3 separate regions of the Homo sapiens genome follow, and all the other regions are reported to be linked to region 1. Evidence: microRNA targets listed by miRTarBase, many of them from high-throughput screens and not tested one by one. Region 1 holds a microRNA gene; each other region holds the end of a gene's coding sequence.

Evidence for each region. Region 1 holds the annotated microRNA hsa-miR-4673 (UCCAGGCAGGAGCCGGACUGGA, at 2,100-2,121, opposite strand). A microRNA usually pairs through its seed, bases 2 to 8, with sites in the 3' UTR of a target mRNA and lowers its output. Matches are read on the target gene's strand: a 7mer-m8 pairs with bases 2 to 8, a 7mer-A1 pairs with bases 2 to 7 and ends in A, and an 8mer does both.
Region 2: the mRNA of CDK18 is a reported target of hsa-miR-4673. Seed matches in the 3' UTR shown: 7mer-A1 at 2,572-2,578.
Region 3: miRTarBase lists HSPB8 as a target of hsa-miR-4673. Seed matches in the 3' UTR shown: 7mer-m8 at 2,553-2,559.

The regions. Positions count from the first base shown.
Region 1 is chr9:136,517,505-136,520,754 of GRCh38, forward strand. MIR4673 (microRNA 4673) reads right to left here and starts at 2,122; the gene lies at 2,064-2,122. NOTCH1 (notch receptor 1) reads right to left here. Exons shown (of 34, transcript NM_017617.5): 5 at 1,939-2,061; 6 at 1,087-1,320; 7 at 633-788; 8 at 248-433. All of the region lies in intron 1 of LOC124902310 (a long non-coding RNA gene), which reads left to right.
Region 2 is chr1:205,530,819-205,534,068 of GRCh38, reverse strand. It overlaps CDK18 (cyclin dependent kinase 18), which reads right to left. Exons shown (of 16, transcript NM_212502.3): 16 at 1,279-2,725. The coding sequence ends at 2,691. Among named protein-coding and RNA genes, the nearest start is that of CDK18, 28 kb to the right of the region's middle.
Region 3 is chr12:119,193,635-119,196,884 of GRCh38, reverse strand. HSPB8 (heat shock protein family B (small) member 8) reads right to left here. Exons shown (of 3, transcript NM_014365.3): 3 at 2,139-3,186. The coding sequence ends at 3,027. It also overlaps the pseudogene PDAP1P1. Among named protein-coding and RNA genes, the nearest start is that of HSPB8-AS1, 11 kb to the right of the region's middle.

The DNA of each region.
Region 1 (3,250 bases):
CCCCCTGCGCACCCGCTCCCCTGCAGCCCGTGGCCCCTGGCCCGGCACCCTCATCTGCCTAGCACTGCCCCCGTGCTCTGCTGGCCCTGTGGCCTGGCCTCAGTTTCCCCATGCCCTGTGCAGGCTGTGGGCCCAGAAGGCATGGAGGCTGGGGAAAGCGGAAGCAACCCACAGATGTTCCCGGGGCTGCCCCTCCAAGGCTGCCCAGCCTCGACTCGGTTTCCCGCCCTGGCCCCGGCCGACGCACCGGGCATGCAGATGCACTGGAACTCCCCAATCTGGTCCAGGCAGGTGGCGTCGTTCTGGCACGGGTTCGAGACGCACTCGTTGACGTCGATCTCGCATCGGGGGCCCGTGTAGCCCTGCAGACACTGGCACTCGAAGGAGCCCAGCGTGTTGATGCACTTGCCCGCATGCTCGCAGGGGTTGGCACCTGGCGAGGGCACACGGGTGAGAGGCTGCTCCAGGCACCCTGGCCCCTGCAACACCTCACTGCACACCACCCCCATCGGACTGGCAGGGTCCCATCCCCCATCTAACTGGGCACCCCCTGAAGCCAGAATCGACTTCTCATCGGTTCTGGGGCCAGGCTGCCACCCCCACCTGGCCGCACCCCCTGTGCTGGCACCTACCCAGCGAGCACTCATCCACGTCCTGGCTGCAGGCCGGGCCCGTGTACCCCGAGGGGCAGGTGCAGATGGCCTTGCCATTGACAGGGTTGGTGTCGCAGTTGGAGCCCTCGTTACAGGGGTTGCTGATGCATGCGTCGTTGAGGTGGCACAGCAGACCTGGGCAGGCAGCGGCGGTCAGTGGGCACGGCCCCTGGGCCAGGCATGGCACACCACCCACGGCTGGGGTCCAACCCCACTGACACCCCAGGAGGAGCTGCCCGCCGTGACCCCGTCGGGCATCCCGTGACACTTGGGACGTTCCGGGGGACTCACAGCGACCACCGGCCTCCCTGACCAGAAAGGCCCTTTCAGGTTATCCTGGGTGCAGGAGGGCCACAGTCCCTGGGTGAGGTCACACAGCTCAGGCCTGGCCCATGTGAGCCCCCTGCGCCCACCTGGGCCTCAAGGCACTCACCTGTGCGGCCATGGGGACACTCGCAGTAGAAGGAGGCCACACGGTCATGGCAGGTGGCGCCGTGGAAGCAGGCGGCGCTGGCACAGTCATCAATGTTCTCGCTGCAGTCCTCACCAGTCCAGCCGTTGACACACACGCAGTTGTAGCCACCGTGGGTGTTGTGGCAGGTCCCGCCGTTCTGGCAGGCATTTGGCATCAGCTGGCACTCGTCCACATCCTCGGTACAGTACTGACCTGCAGGGAACAGGAGCTGTCGGCCCCGGGCAGCTGCCACTCCCTGAGCTCCCTGTCCCCTAAGACGCAGGGTGGCAATGCCGCCCCCTCCAGGAAGCCTTCCTGGGCTGACTCCTCCACCCACCGCCAGCCTAAATCACTCCTTCCTCTGCAGGCCCAGCACCATGGAGTCTTGCCTCCTCTTTGTGCTCTGTGGACACTGCTGCGTCGGGGTGCACCTTTGCCCGTCACCCCACCAGAGGGTAATTCCCGAACACAGGGCCTGTCTGTTCATCCAGGCATCCCTGTGACTGGCCCAGGAAGCGTGGCCTGAGTGGGGTGCTGAAGGCCCTCAATGCCAGGACACCCCACTGGGCACAGGGGCTGCCTGGAGCCAGGTTGCAAACGGCCCACACAGACCAACCAGGGCCCTGTCTGTGCTGACCCCCGAGGTGAGGGGCACCAGACCCTGGCCACGGGAAGTGGGGCCCCCATCATGTTGTCCTTCTCGGCCAACCCTAGTCTGCCTGGCCTGGGACAGGGTCTCGGCTGCTCCCCGCTATGCCTGTGAGTGCAGTTTAGTAAGTGGGTAGCAGCCCCGCCCCGGCTACCCCGCCCTGCGGCGACCCGTATACGCGCCTGTCCACTCTGGCGGGCAGCGGCAGTTGTAGGTGTTCACGCCGTCCACACAGGCACCCCCGTTCTTGCAGTTGTTTCCTGGACAATCGTCGATATTTTCCTCACAGTTCTGGCCGGTGAAGCCTGCCGCAAGAGGGGCCGGGTCAGCCTCTTCCCTGAGGTCCAGTCCGGCTCCTGCCTGGACCCCCGACACACTGCTCTGGACACAAGAGCCTGGCCTCCACGGCCCTGCCCTGGGGCCCCCGGGGTCTGTGCCCGTCCCCTGCCTCACTCCAGTGCCCAGAGGGACACGCCCTGCTTGAAAGAATCATTTTGGACAGGACTGGCTAAACAGGGACTCAGGAACACAGGGTTCCAGAAGATTCTGTCACAAAAACCCTTGGGTCTCTTTTAAGAGGTTCCGGCAGCTCCTGCACCTGGGTGCCGCCTGCATGCTCAGAGCTCCCTACAATGTCTCCACAGGGGGGCCGCACACCCCATCTTCAGGGGCTGACACTGGGGCCTGGGCTCTGAGCAGCAGGGGGACATGGGGCCAGCAGGCTGCTGGCTGGGGCAGGGTGGGCCCCTCGCAGCCCCAGGGAAGCTGCAGAGATTCAGATGGCCCATCCTCCCTGGGGCAGAGCTCTGGTGCCCACCTCCTCCTCCCCCTCCTCCTCCACAGGCTGCCAGGGCCCCCTCCCCCGAGGTATGGCCCCACCCAGGCCTCCAAGGCAGCCAGTTAGCTATTAATCCACTCAACTCCCGCTGGTTCAATGATCAACCCAGAAAGGCGCGTTCGGCAACAGCCAAACCTGCAGCCGGTTACTAATTGCCGCCCTCCCGAGATGCCTTTGAACCCCCGTTGCCCTTGGAGCTCCCACCTGCTCGGCCCCTCCCTCTGAGACATTGCCCCACCGCCACCACCCCGTCCGTTCTGTCTGTCTGCTGGACCGGAGCAAAAGCAGGCAGCCAGAGACAACCAAAATCCAAAATGCAAATCAGCTTGGGGAGCACCCAAAACCAGACCCCAGCCCTGGCGCGGTGGCTCACGCCTGGAATCCCGGCACTTTGGGAGGCTGAAGTGGGTGGATCGCTTGCGCCCAGGAGTTCAAGACCAGCCTGGACAACATGGCGAAACCCCGTCTCTACAAAAAAAAATACAAGAAGTAGCAAAGCGTGGTGGCGCCGGCCTGTGGTCCCAAGCTACTTGAGGGGCTGAGGCAGAAGGATCGCTTTAGCCTGGGAGGTCAAGGCTGCAGTGAGCTGAGGGCACGTCACTGTACTCCAGCCTGAGTGACAGAGACCTGTCTCAAAAAAAAAAAAAAAATTCAGA
Region 2 (3,250 bases), not on the chromosome of region 1:
GGGCAGACACCTGGGATTCTAATTTGGTATGTGACCCCAGGCTACCCCTGGGAGGCTCCTGTCCTCATCTGCAAAGTGGGGAGAAAGGGGGGTTTCTATGAGGATTCAGTGAGACAATGCCTGGGCACAGGGCTGCCTGGCACCCAGCAGGGAACTTAATAAATGTCTGGTTTCCAATTCCCACCAATGCATTTCCCAGCCCTTCTCCTCCCCTCAAGCACTAATTGTCTGAGTTACGACCCTACTTTGGTGTCTGGCTGCCTACAAGCAAAGTGAGGAGGTCTCCTTCGGTAGAACTGGTGCTGAGCTGAGAATGGAGCCCTGGCCCGCCCCTTACTTCCAGAGCCTTGGGAGACATCATCAACCTCAGCATCAGCTTCCTCCTCTGGAAAGCAGCCACCCTCTTAAGTAACTGCAAACCATGCCGGCAAACTGCAAAGTGCTTAAGGCCAGGCATGAGGACAGGTCAGGAGGCAGGGTTTCGGGCCTGGCATTCTCAGAGTGGTCTCGGGAAGAACAAACCTGGACACCGAACTGGACAACAGCAGGACTCTGAGCACTTTGGGAGCTGTGTATGATGTGTTGCGGGGGTGGGTTGTGTCCAGATCAAAGGTGGGGAGGCGGTCTAGGCAGCAGCAGGAGGTGTATTCGAGGTCTGCAGCAATTCTTGCAGAGCCTGAATTACAGTGAGGCCCACACCCTCGTCCTGCTGCCCTGGCCTTGGCCATCTCCCATGTCAACCTCATCTTGATCTTGCCTACCTCCCTCCCCAGAAGCCAGGGGGCCATTTGGCATCAGGAACACAGGGATTAGCTGCACGGCCAGACCCCAGACCCCCGCCCAGGGGTCCCTCTTTGCTCTCCTGGCCAGCCCCACCCCACAGGCACCAACTTGGGCCAATGCCAGGCCACAGGTCAGACTCCCAGGCCTGGGACTCCTCTGCCCACCCACAACAACCACTGATGCTCCTCAGCAAGAGCCAACTTCTGGCTCTGAACGCAGCAGCACCCAGGATACAGCAAGGTGAATGCTAGGCACTCGTCCCACAGCCTGGGGTGTAGGGGAGGTCAGAGATACACACAAATCAAACTCTCTCCTCACTATATATATATATATATATATATATATATACACACACACACACACACACACACACACACACACATACACACAAGCACACCCCACCCACACTCATTAGGCCTGGAGGGGGGACTTCAGTTCTCCATCTTTGGCATCAATCTATCAAAGTCAGCTTTTCTGTACGAGACTGCTCGCTCCTTTCTGTACATGAATTAAATATATTATCTGTCTCTGCACTGAGTCACACGACGTTCACAGTACCGTGGGGAGGAGTGGAGGGTGGGGGCCTGAGGTGGGCAGGGCAGGGGGCCTGGGTAGAAAGGCGAGGCTGGCCTCCCCTTGGCCTGTGCCATTCAGGATCAGCCCAGTGTTGAGGAGACCTGGGGGATACAGAGGGGAGCCTTCTTCAGGGGCCCCGGCCACCCAGGCTTCCAGCCCCCGGAGGCAAGCCTCTCAGCATCAGAGCCTGCTCCTGTTCCACGTTCCTCTCCCTCAGATGGTGGCATCTACACCTCTCCCTGTCGTGGCCGCCCTCTGGGGTGGCAGGGGCTGGGGGAAGCTGGTATTGGGATCAGGTGGACAGAGCCACAAGGGCTGGGAAGGAAGGATGGGGAGGCTGTGCGAGCCTTCGGGAGCTGAGGTCAGCCTGGCACCAGTGTCAGGGTGACTCTGCATATCTGGGTGCCGTCCCCAGGACCCTGACCAGGCCTGGCTAATCAGAGCCCTGGGATGATAAGGTAAGCAGGAGCCACCTCGGGAAGGGGTGGACAGGCAGGAGCCGGTCACAGCTCCAAGGGCAGTGAGTACGGTACCACCTGCCAATTTAAGGCAACTCCATTCAGACTGATGAGCTGGGCGGGGGCTGGCTGAGGTGGCAGGCGTGCAACTGGCGGTCCCAGGCCACCTCTGGACACAGCTGGGCATCCAAGCATGCCAGCAAAGCGTATGCCGGCACTGCTCAGCCATGGTTCAAGCCAGAGGGTGTCGGGGAATGAGGGTAGGGTAGGGCTGATGGAAAGAGTGGGGACTACTATTCCTTCTGTTGCTGTGGGACACCTGCCAGGTGGGGTAGGCTTTGGCACACATGTGGGTACCTAGGATTCCAGGGTCCCAGAGAACATGCCATGTCTCTTCTTGCTCTCAGAGGGGAAAAAGATGAAACGTGTGTGGGCTCCAAGGGGCCAGAAAGGGGGACTACCAAACTGGCACTAGGCAGGTCCTGGGGGAGGAGGGTAGAGCCTGTATCCAGGGCAGAGTGCCCATCCTGGCGCCTTGATTCTGTCATCCGTGTGCATCCCACGCAGGTGCCCAAACACCAGGGTGGGAGAGGGTACGAGGACCGCCCCCCCCTCATGTCCTCTCAGGGAAGCAGCTTATGCCAGCCCCAACGTGGGTAAAGGAGGGGTTGGTATGCAGGTGAGGGCTACTGGGGAGGCACACGGGAAGCACAAAGAAGAAACAGCCGTGGCCAGAAGGGCTGCCAAGCGGTCTTCCAGGCTGGCTGTCAGCCCTCGTTCTTCAGTCCTCCGAGGGCCACACAGGCTCCATCCTACCCGAATTTGTGCTCCATGTGATCTCTTGTCCCTTGGCCACAGCAAGGTGGGCGTGGCTCAGAAGATGCTCTGCCGCCTGTTCTTCCCTCGTCCTGGAGAATGGAGAAGAGGTGGGGCTGCAGGGAGGAGGCTGGGCTGACGGGTACCCCAGGTCAGCAGGGACAGTCGCTGTCCCCCAGAGCTGCTCTGACAGAGCAAGCAAGGGCATGCAAACAGGAGCCGGTCTGACCTGGTGTCAAATCCCATCTCTGCTACTTACTAGCTGCATGAACTTGTGACTTAACCTCCCAGAGCCTCAGTTTCATTGACTATGAAATGGGGAATATTAATAGTACTAGCTTCAAGGGGTATTTTAAGGATTAAAGAAGACGATGCATGGAAAGCATTTGTCAATGTCCAAGGCCATTGACTGTTCTAGGAACAAAGTACCGTTCTCCCAGGATGGAATCTGATTAGAGAGCTCAGGGTTTGCAGAGAGAATGCACCAGAGACAGCATGCCTCTTTGCCAGGGCTACTGTCAAATGCAATGTCCTGTCTGGGGTGGAGGGTTGAGGAGGGAAGAGCTGGACGAGGAAGTCTAGGCAGGAGAAACCAACCCCTTCTCTGCTCCCCAAAG
Region 3 (3,250 bases), not on the chromosome of region 1:
AGCCACTACTGCAGGGCCACGTCAGATGGAGGGAAACAATTCTGTTGATAGCATTAGTGCCCCGAATCCAGCTCTCCTAGCAAGCAGCTCTTATCCCAGACTTCTCAGCTATGTGCACCAATAAAAACCCCTTTTGGTTTAAATTAGTTTGAGTTGGGTCTCCTGGCACTTACCACAGCAGCCCTTCTCCCTCCCACCCTACAGTCAGGGATCTGTGTTCCTGGCAGCATCCAAACCCGTGGCAGCCACAGCACTGTTAACTGCCCTCAGAGCTGCTAGGCCTCTTTCCTCCTTCCTAGCAGAACCTTGTTTTGTTCAGGTAGCAATGTTGCAGGCCTCAGAAGATGTTGATCCAAGCCTGTCATGACCATCCTTTTCCCTTTTGGCAGAAATTGGTCTCAGGGTAGGCATGTGACCCACTTTTGGCCAATGAGATAGAAAAAGAAGTCTGCTGGGAGCTTCTGGACGATATCCTGCTCACTGATAAAAGAAGCTAGGTGATAATACCTTTTTATGACTTCCTTCTATTCCCCATACATTGTCATATGAGGATGAGATGCCTGGAGCTGCTGCAGCCATCTTGTAACCATGAGGATAGACTGTGACTATGTACACTTGTCAGAGATGGCAGAGAAAAAAATGGAAATATCCTGGGCTCTTGGTGGCATAACAGCTGAAAAAAAAACTGTGTATCTACTTACCTCTAAACTTTTTGTGAAGTTAGAAAACAGCTATTTATATCATTTAAGCCACTGTTCATCAGGCAACATTACTTTATTTTTTATATTTTTTATTTTTATTTTTTTACGATAATGTCAAGTTTAATCTGCCAAATATACAAGTTGAACTTGTGGAACATGTTTTGCCTGGGTGCCACACAGTAAACAGAGGTTTCTTGAAATGATCAATGGGTAGGGTTAAAAATGGGCACTGGCCTTAGCCAGGTGGGTAGGAACTGGGCAGGGAGGGGCAGAGAGGCGAGGCCTCGATCAGACAGGACTGACCAGGGACAAGCCATAACCCTCGAGGACCCAGGGGCACAGGCTCCCAGATGACAGCCCCTCTCTGAATGAGCACCTAGGCAACACAGTCCGGGGCTGGGTGTAGCAAACCTGTCAGCAGCTGCCTCCTGGGACAACCACCCCCTTACATGCTATCTACCAGAAAAATGAAAGCTCTTCTTACCCCATCTCCCAGGCACCCCCCAGCAAGGGCTCTGAATTCTAAAAACAGCAAAAACATTCAAATGGTTACATGTGAAATGCTGTCCCTCATCTTTCTGTCTCAAAGATAGCAACTGCCCCTCCCCCAGCTCCCCCCACATCCCCCAAACAATTTCTGTGCCAAAATGAAGAGGAGGCCCCAGGCCATGGGGGGCTCCTGGCCACGAGGGGCTGTTGCGGCGGCGCCAGGGCACAGGGTGGGCGAGACACAGCAGAGGTCCTGGCAGCGCGGCCCAGGTCCCCGGCATCTCCTCCCATGGGTCGCGGTTACTTATACAGGGAGAGCGACTGCATTCGTTTTCCTGACAATGTGGCATCATCTTTTGCTTTCCTTTCCTCTTCCTTCTTCCGGGCAGCCTCCTCCCGCTGTTTCCGGATGATGGCCAGCGGGCCAGGTCAGCCTTGGCTTGCTCTGTCTTCCCGGCCAAGTGCATTTTCATGTAACGCTCTTTTGCCTTCTGCTTCTCAATCTCTTCTCGTTCTCTCCTCGAAAGCTCCTTTGGCCCATCCAGATACAGTTGTGTGACCTTTTTGGTTGTCTGTGCCACCTGGTTGGGGTTCTCGATGTTGAAGAGCCCTTCAACGCCTTTGCGGTTTTGCTGGTAGTCATCTTCTTCATCCTCACTCTCATCTGAGTCTAGAGATTTCTTCTCCTTTTTGGGGTCACCTGCAGCCCCATCTCCACCTTCTTTTTGCTCCTCTTCTTCCCTGGCCTTCTGCTTCTCAGCCTGCAGCTGTACGTCGATCTCCTCAGGGCTCCTATACTGCCTCGCCCAGCCTTTGTGGCCTCCCTTTCTCCCTCCTTTAGGCATCGCGGCTCCGCGCAACATTACTTTAAGCCACAGCATTGCTAACTGATGTTGTATATCTAGGTGGTATTACATTTAGTTCCTCATTAAAAGAACCACACAAGGCTAAGAACGTCAGCTCCTTTATTATTATTATTATTATTATTAATTATTTACTGTTATTTACCCCTAAACAACAGCATAACTCAAATAATAATGACACACACGTCCCGCCCATATACACAATACCACTAGCCTATCTGTCAGGCTATCTGGCCTTTGCTTGGTTCCTGATGGAGCTGTCTGGAGACAGCTCCCTCTGTAAAAATCCCGACTTAAACACAGGGGACAGAAGAAAGGGGGGACCTAGGTCAGATCATAAACTGACAGGCTCCCAGCGTCCTTAGGGAGTGCTAATGTGGAAACTTTGAGAACGTGCTGGACACATCTGGGCAGAGGGCAGAAGGCACTGTTTGTTTTTATGTGGTTGATGGATAAATTCCATATGGGGATATAAGACCTGTATATCACCCATTTTAGGCCAGGCATGTGGAAGCACAGTGGGGTTAGCTACTGGGTTTCATTAACCAAACCATGCGGCATGGTTTGGGAGCCATGGGAATCGGGAGCCCAGAGTAGGAACCTGGGTGATGGGGGAGGTCCCCAGAGAAAAGTAACCCTTGCATTCACTGCAAGTAAGATACAACGTGAAATGTTAAGTCCCCTTTTATGTGTTTTGCAACTATAGAATGTGCAACATTTTCATCAAGATAGAAAAGGTAAAGAAAGCAAAACTAGTATTTTGGCCTAACACAACCAAGCATGATTTGCCAATTGCGCTATCCTGTGGAGAAATCTACCACTACACTATCCAGGGAATCTGTGGTCAGTCCTCACCCCCGCACCCTCTAACATTTTACTTGCACTAAATCTGAGTTCAGCTAAAGTAATGTATCCTGGAATCAGAGAAGCCCTAGGGTTGGGGACAAAACAAGGATGGGCCAGTACTGGCATCTCAGGTACAGGTGACTTCCTGGCTGTCCTGGGGAAGCTCGTTGTTGAAACTGCTCTCTCCAAATGTTGAGTAAGGAGGGACCTGGGGAGCTTCGATGATCAGCAGACCCTCTGGGGAAAGTGAGGCAAATACTGTCACAGGATCCACCTCTGCAGGAAGCCTAGGAGAAACACACGATTTTATTCATTTATTGTTGTTAATATTGCTTAAACATTCTTTTATTC